2 separate regions of the Homo sapiens genome follow, and region 1 is linked to region 2. Evidence: fine-mapped expression QTL. A gene starts in region 2. The other region holds a variant in brackets. All regions are shown on one strand. Distances are between the middles of the regions. Region 1 overlaps DNAJB12 (DnaJ heat shock protein family (Hsp40) member B12). Region 2 holds the start of DNAJB12 (DnaJ heat shock protein family (Hsp40) member B12).

The links.
Region 1: its variant is fine-mapped to the expression of DNAJB12 in blood mononuclear cells (TOPMed, PIP 0.92).

What each region holds. Positions count from the first base shown.
Region 1 is chr10:72,330,126-72,333,029 of GRCh38, reverse strand. DNAJB12 (DnaJ heat shock protein family (Hsp40) member B12) reads left to right here. Exons shown (of 9, transcript NM_017626.7): 9 at 1-167. Among named protein-coding and RNA genes, the nearest start is that of DNAJB12, 23 kb to the left of the region's middle. RefSeq lists a silencer at 720-969. The variant G/TG (reference allele first, on the strand shown) is at 1,101.
Region 2 is chr10:72,353,133-72,356,036 of GRCh38, reverse strand. DNAJB12 (DnaJ heat shock protein family (Hsp40) member B12) reads left to right here and starts at 1,118. Exons shown (of 9, transcript NM_017626.7): 1 at 1,118-1,272. The coding sequence starts at 1,140. RefSeq lists enhancers at 892-1,141, 1,532-1,661.

The DNA.
Region 1 (2,904 bases), 23 kb after region 2:
TGTGGCCAGAGTGCCTACCCACTGTGGCCCCGGTGCTCTGCCCCCACGCCCCGACCATCTGGTCTTGGTAGATGTCCCTAGACGGGCTGAGCCATGTGCAATAAGAACATAGATCCTAAAGGATCCTCTGGAAGCTGTATTTCTTGAATTAGAATTCTCAAATTGTACATCTGTTAATATATGTTTATTATGTGACTGGCCGTGGTGGGTCTGCATTGAGCAGGGAGGCCTAAGGGGTGGGGGGGAGGGGGCACAAGCCCCTGCTGCTGCTGACACTGTCCAGCCTGTGCCACAAGGAGCTCTAGATGATGAGCCTGAATTTCCCCCGACCCCTGGCCCTGGCTAACAGCCACTTAAGCCACACATGCTGTTCCAGAACTAACTCCATCCAGGCAGAGGGGTGCTCAGGTGACTGGGGGGCTGCAGGACCTGAGCAGTCTGGGTCCCTGGGGTCCCCAGCGCCAGTCCTGGCTGGGCATCTGGGCCACGACCATCACCCTCTGCTTTTCCCTCTCCCAATCCCTCCCCCCCACACCCTCAGGCCTGCCATGTGCCCGCAGAGCATTCGAAATTCCCGGCCCCAGCCTGGAGCTCGATCCCACTCAGGAGCCAGATCCTGGGAAAAGTGTTGCGAGTTTGTTTCCATCGTCCTTCCCACCATCCTCCCCCAAACCGCCCCCGCAGCCCGCCCTCCTCTCCAGGAGGTTGAAAAAGTTTAAAATGTGGCAGCCCAAGTCGGGTCGGGCTCCTGTGAATGGAGCGGCAGATCTGCCCAGGCCTCCCAGAGACAGGGCCCGGCAGCCCTGACTGGCGGACCCAGGCCCCTCCCGCGGCTGCACCAGCCAAAGACAGGCGGGCTGCCCAGTGGTGCCACCGTGGCCCGGGAGCTCATTGGCTGCCCCTGCCCAGGGTCACCACTGCCTGCCCTGGTGTGCAAGCCGCCACTTGTTAGCTGCGGTTGGCAGAGGCGTTGCAGGCACCCCCATTCACCCACCTCATCCCCCCTGCCCTCCCTGTGTGGCTTGGCCGTGAGCCAGAGGAGGTGGGATGCACGCTCTGACTGCAGCAAAAAAGGCTTTGACAAGTGTCCCCCACCCACT[G/TG]TCAGGTGGCAGAACGCGCCACTGCATCCCAGCTCCCTGGCTCCACTAGCTTATAGCCTTGTCCCTTGCTGCTCCCAGGTCCAGAGAAAAAAAAACTGCTCCAGGGACAAGGAGCACACACCCGACCTGCCTGTAACCTCATCCCCACCCCACATTGCCCAGACAAAGTCACCTGGCGTCTGGAGCAGGCACACAGCCATGCCAAGAATCAGGTAAATAGACTGTTGACATGGTTCAGAAGCAACCCAGCGTCCCTACCAGACATCACGCCATGTGACATGAGCAAGTCAGCTCATTTCCCAGAGCAGGAAACAGGCTTGGGGGAGGAAAGTGGCGCCCAGGGTCTTGAAGAAACTGTGCCTGTCTCTGGGGTCCTTGTAGCAGAGTGGTCATTCTACAAACAGTTGCTGAGCCCAAATTTGCTGCACTCAGGGAAATCAAACCCACTGGTGTCAGGTAGAGTGGGCAGAAGACCCGAGTCCAGGAGGGTGGAAAAGGATGAAAAGGCCACACTGAGGATGGTGGCACTTCATCTGATGGGCTTGGCCTAGGGAGCAGCTGCCCATTCCAGTAGGTGTCTCCTGGCAGTGACACGGGCATCCATCTGGCTGCACCAGGAAACGTCATCCCCAGGAGGCAGCCTCGCAGCCCCCACGGGGGCTGAGGCTGGATCTTTGCCATTTACTGACTGGGTGACCTTGGGTGTCCCTGAAGGAGTTCAGGAAATGCCACCCCAAAATCTGCCATTTTGGTGTGCTGATTACTTCAAACTGGGGGCACTTGAGCAACAGCAAGTGCAGGAAGGGCTTTCTCTGAAGTTGCCTCATCTGCCTAAGTTGTCCTGAACTCCCTCCTGGAAATCTTACCTACCAAGGAGGATTGACTCATTGACAACAACTGCCTATTATTCTTGGGGCTGCTCAGACAACTGTTAAGACCTGAGAGACTGACTTTTTTTTTTTTTTTGAGATGGAATCTCGCTCTGTCACCCAGGCTGGAGTGCAGTGGCGCAATCTCGGCTCACTGCAAGCTCCGCTTCCCGGGTTCACGCCATTCTCCTGCCTCAGCCTCCCGAGTAGCTGGGACTACAGGTGCCTGCCACCACGCCCGGCTAATTTTTTTGTATTTTTAGTAGAGACAGGGTTTCACTGTGTTAGCCAGGATGGTCTCGATCTCCTGACCTCGTGATCCGCCCACCTCAGCCTCCCAAAGTGCTGAGATTACAGGCATGAGCCACCATGCCTGGCCGAGACTGACTTTTTATCTGCATAACGAGACAACTTTTGCTCACCATGCAGTTCCTCCCCTCACCCTCCCAAACTTGCATTGCCATCACCCACCAGAAGCTCCCAGCCCGTTTTTTTTTTTTTTTTTTTTTTGGTTTTTTTTTTAAGGTACAAAGGTTATCCTGGACCCCAGTTCCTTTTCTGTAGCTCAAGATGTGATCTTTCTTGAAATTGCATATTTTGTGGGGCTCCCATGCCTATGTACGTAATTAAATATGATTTTTCTCCTGTTAACCACTTTATCTGTCCATGTAATTCCTAGCACAGTCAAAGACCCTAGAAGGGTGGAGGGAGCCAGTTTTTGCTTTCCTGTGTCATTTGACTGCCCTTTGCCTCAGTGTCTTCATCTGCAAAATGGGAGTGATACAAACACCTACCTCATAGGATGGTTGTGAGGAGTAAACAAGTTACCACATATAAAGCACTTAGAACAGTGCCTGGTACATGGCGAGTGCCATTTGGGTGTTTCTTGTTTGTCCTTAGTGGACAAAGATTAGCTGAGCAATGACTGGGTGTCA
Region 2 (2,904 bases):
TTTTTTTTTTCTTCTTTTTTTTTAGATGGCGTTTCACTCTTGTTGCCCAGGCTGGAGTGCAATGGTGTGATCTTGGCTCACCGCAACCTCCACCTCCCAGGTTCAAGCGATTCTCCCGCCTCAGCCTCCCGAGTAGGTGGGATTACAGGCCATGTGCCACCATGCCCGGCTAATTTTGTATTTTTAGTAGAGACGGGGTTTCTCCATGTTGGTCAGGCTGGTCTCGAACTCCTGACCTCAAGTGATCCGCCCGCCTCGGCCTCTCAAAGTGCTGGGATTACAGGCGTGAGCCACCGCGCCCAGCCTGTAGTAGAATCTTTACGCTCCCTAGAATGTATTCGCCTTCCTGATCTGTTATAACTCACCAAGAGAATTCCCTTTTCAGAGCCTTTGCACTTGCTGTTCCTTCGGCCTGACCACCCTTCCTCCAGACAGTCACATCTACCTGTTATCGTTCCTGAATTCTGGTACCTGTTAATGACAGCTTCTGAGAGGTTTCTTTTATCGCGCTATTTAAAATAGCGCCTCCCACTCTCTATCCCTGTGTTTTCCATAATTTTTCTTCAGAGCTTTTATCACTATCTGAATCTATCTGGAGCTCCCCCAGCCTACACACACTGGAATGTAAGCTCCATGAGAGCAGGAGCTTTGTTTTGCTCACCCCTGTATCCCCATCATAAAACCATGCCTCACAAACAGTGGGCACTCAATATCTGTTCAGTGAATAAATAACCTTTGTCTGAAACGTATGTAGTTACATTACGTATATAGATCACCACTTAGTAAACCGTCTGGGAATAACAGGCACTCCGAAGGCCCCAGTCTCATCCCGACGGCTACCACGTGACCTTCCTGAGCTTGGGTTTCCTCCTCCGGAAGATTAGAGGGTTGGCGCATACTCAACTCTAAGACCTCCGGAACATGGAATCTGGGCGTGCACCATTATTGACACCTACACCAGCCGTCCCTTTCTTAGAAGACATACGGTAGCACTTCCACCCTCGCTCAAAACTCGGGAAAGGAGGGGCGGAGGGTGGATGTCATCACTCCGCGCCCGGCTGCCCGCGACGCGCCGGCGGGTGGCGCAGCCCTTCGCTCGCCCGGCCTCCCCCTCCCTGGTTCCGCGTTCTGGTTCCGCCATGGAATCCAACAAGGATGAAGCTGAGCGCTGTATCAGCATCGCCCTCAAGGCCATCCAGAGCAACCAGCCCGACCGGGCGCTCCGCTTCCTGGAGAAGGCACAGCGGCTGTATCCGACGCCGCGAGTTCGCGGTGAGTGTGAGGTGCCGGAGAGACTGGGGACATTAGAACTGATGGGGGGAACACGGGAACGGACCGACGGGAGCAGTTGGGGGAGGGGGAGGGGTGGCGAGGCGCGGCTACGCCTGCGCACTGAGGCGCGCGGTGGCTGCTGGGAGGCGTAGTTTTTCCCTCTTGTTCCTCTGCGGGATGCGAGCCGTCTGGAGACTCGGGCGGCCGGGACTTCAGCTTTCGGGGTGCTGGCGGAGCCCGCTGGGGTTTGAGGTCTCCGAGAATGAAACGCGCTGGCAGCCGGGACGAAGGGAACTTACCTGGAAGTGAACTCGAACTACTTTTCCCAAGGGGCCGTTCGGTAGCCCAGGCCAGTCGCCGGCCTGGGAAATATTACAGTTCAGGAAAATAAACATAACTCCTTTAAGGGAGAGAATGGGCGCTAGACAGGGAGACATTTCTGTTCTTCGGGCGCCAGGGAAAGGCGCTTCCGTATCTTCACTCCCTCTCACCTCTCGGGCTGAGGGTCAGGGACCACTCTCCCAAAATGCAAGCCGGCCTTTGCACCCACCCCAGTCCGCCGCCTCGGACTGTCCTGAAGCCGGGCCCCTCACTCCTCCCGATGATGAGATTCGGAGCGGGTGGCCTGGTGGGAGGTGCTGACCTCAGCCACCGCCAGTCCTCCATCGCCCGCAAGAGTCCAGCGGCGGTCAGCCATGTGGACGCCGAGGCTGCTGAGTTGCCCTGGACAGGAGCCTCCTGAGCCAGGGAGGGAAGAGTGAAGCTGGCTTTACAACTCATCACCTCGCTTCACCCGGGAACCCTTTCTTTTTTCTTTAACCTAAGTTTTCCAAGGAGTTTTTCTTAATCCACGCTAGAGGGGAGAGAGACACCGGGTGGTGCTTGTGATCACCACTCAGTAAACCGTCTGGGAATAACAGGCACTCCGAAGGGCCCAGTCTCATCCTGACGGCTACCACGTGACCTTCCTGAGCTTGGGTTTCCTCCTCGGGAAGATTAGAGGGTTGGCGCAGATAATGTGATTGGCAATAATACCCATAGGGCTTTGCAGTTTAGGAAGCTCCTTCACCTGTGCCTTCTCACTTGAGCCTGCCAGTCAGGGATGCAGAGCAAAGATCATTATCTTTATTCTATGGGTGAGGAAAATCTCTGAGGTAAGGGATGCCCAGGATGACACAGCTAGAAAGTAAAATGTTCTGTGACTCTGTAAATGTTTATGAAGGAAAAGAAATGAAATTGAGGAACAGCAGTCAGCCTCCTAACCGGCCCTGCCCGCCTGATGAGATTGAGAAAGCGGAACGCTGGTGGAAGAGGTAGCCTGGACTGCTGAACTTTCCTCCCTCCGGACTCTTGCAGGTTGATCTTTGGCCTGTTTGCCTCCCCTTGGAGAGGGTTTCGGGCTGTATTTGCCAGGACACCTGAGGTAACCTGCTCGAGGAGCCTCCCTGTGAATTAATTCATATTCTGTGGTGGGGTGGTATCCTCCAGCTGTCAGAATTCTGCCTGACACTGATGCTGCTGCGGGCTCAGGAGCAGGCAGCCAAGAAAGGATGGGCCACAGGGCCTCTGGGGATCTTTCTGTCAGCAGGCCCCTGCACCAGTTCAGGAGCTTGAAGGAGTGTCCTCTCTGGG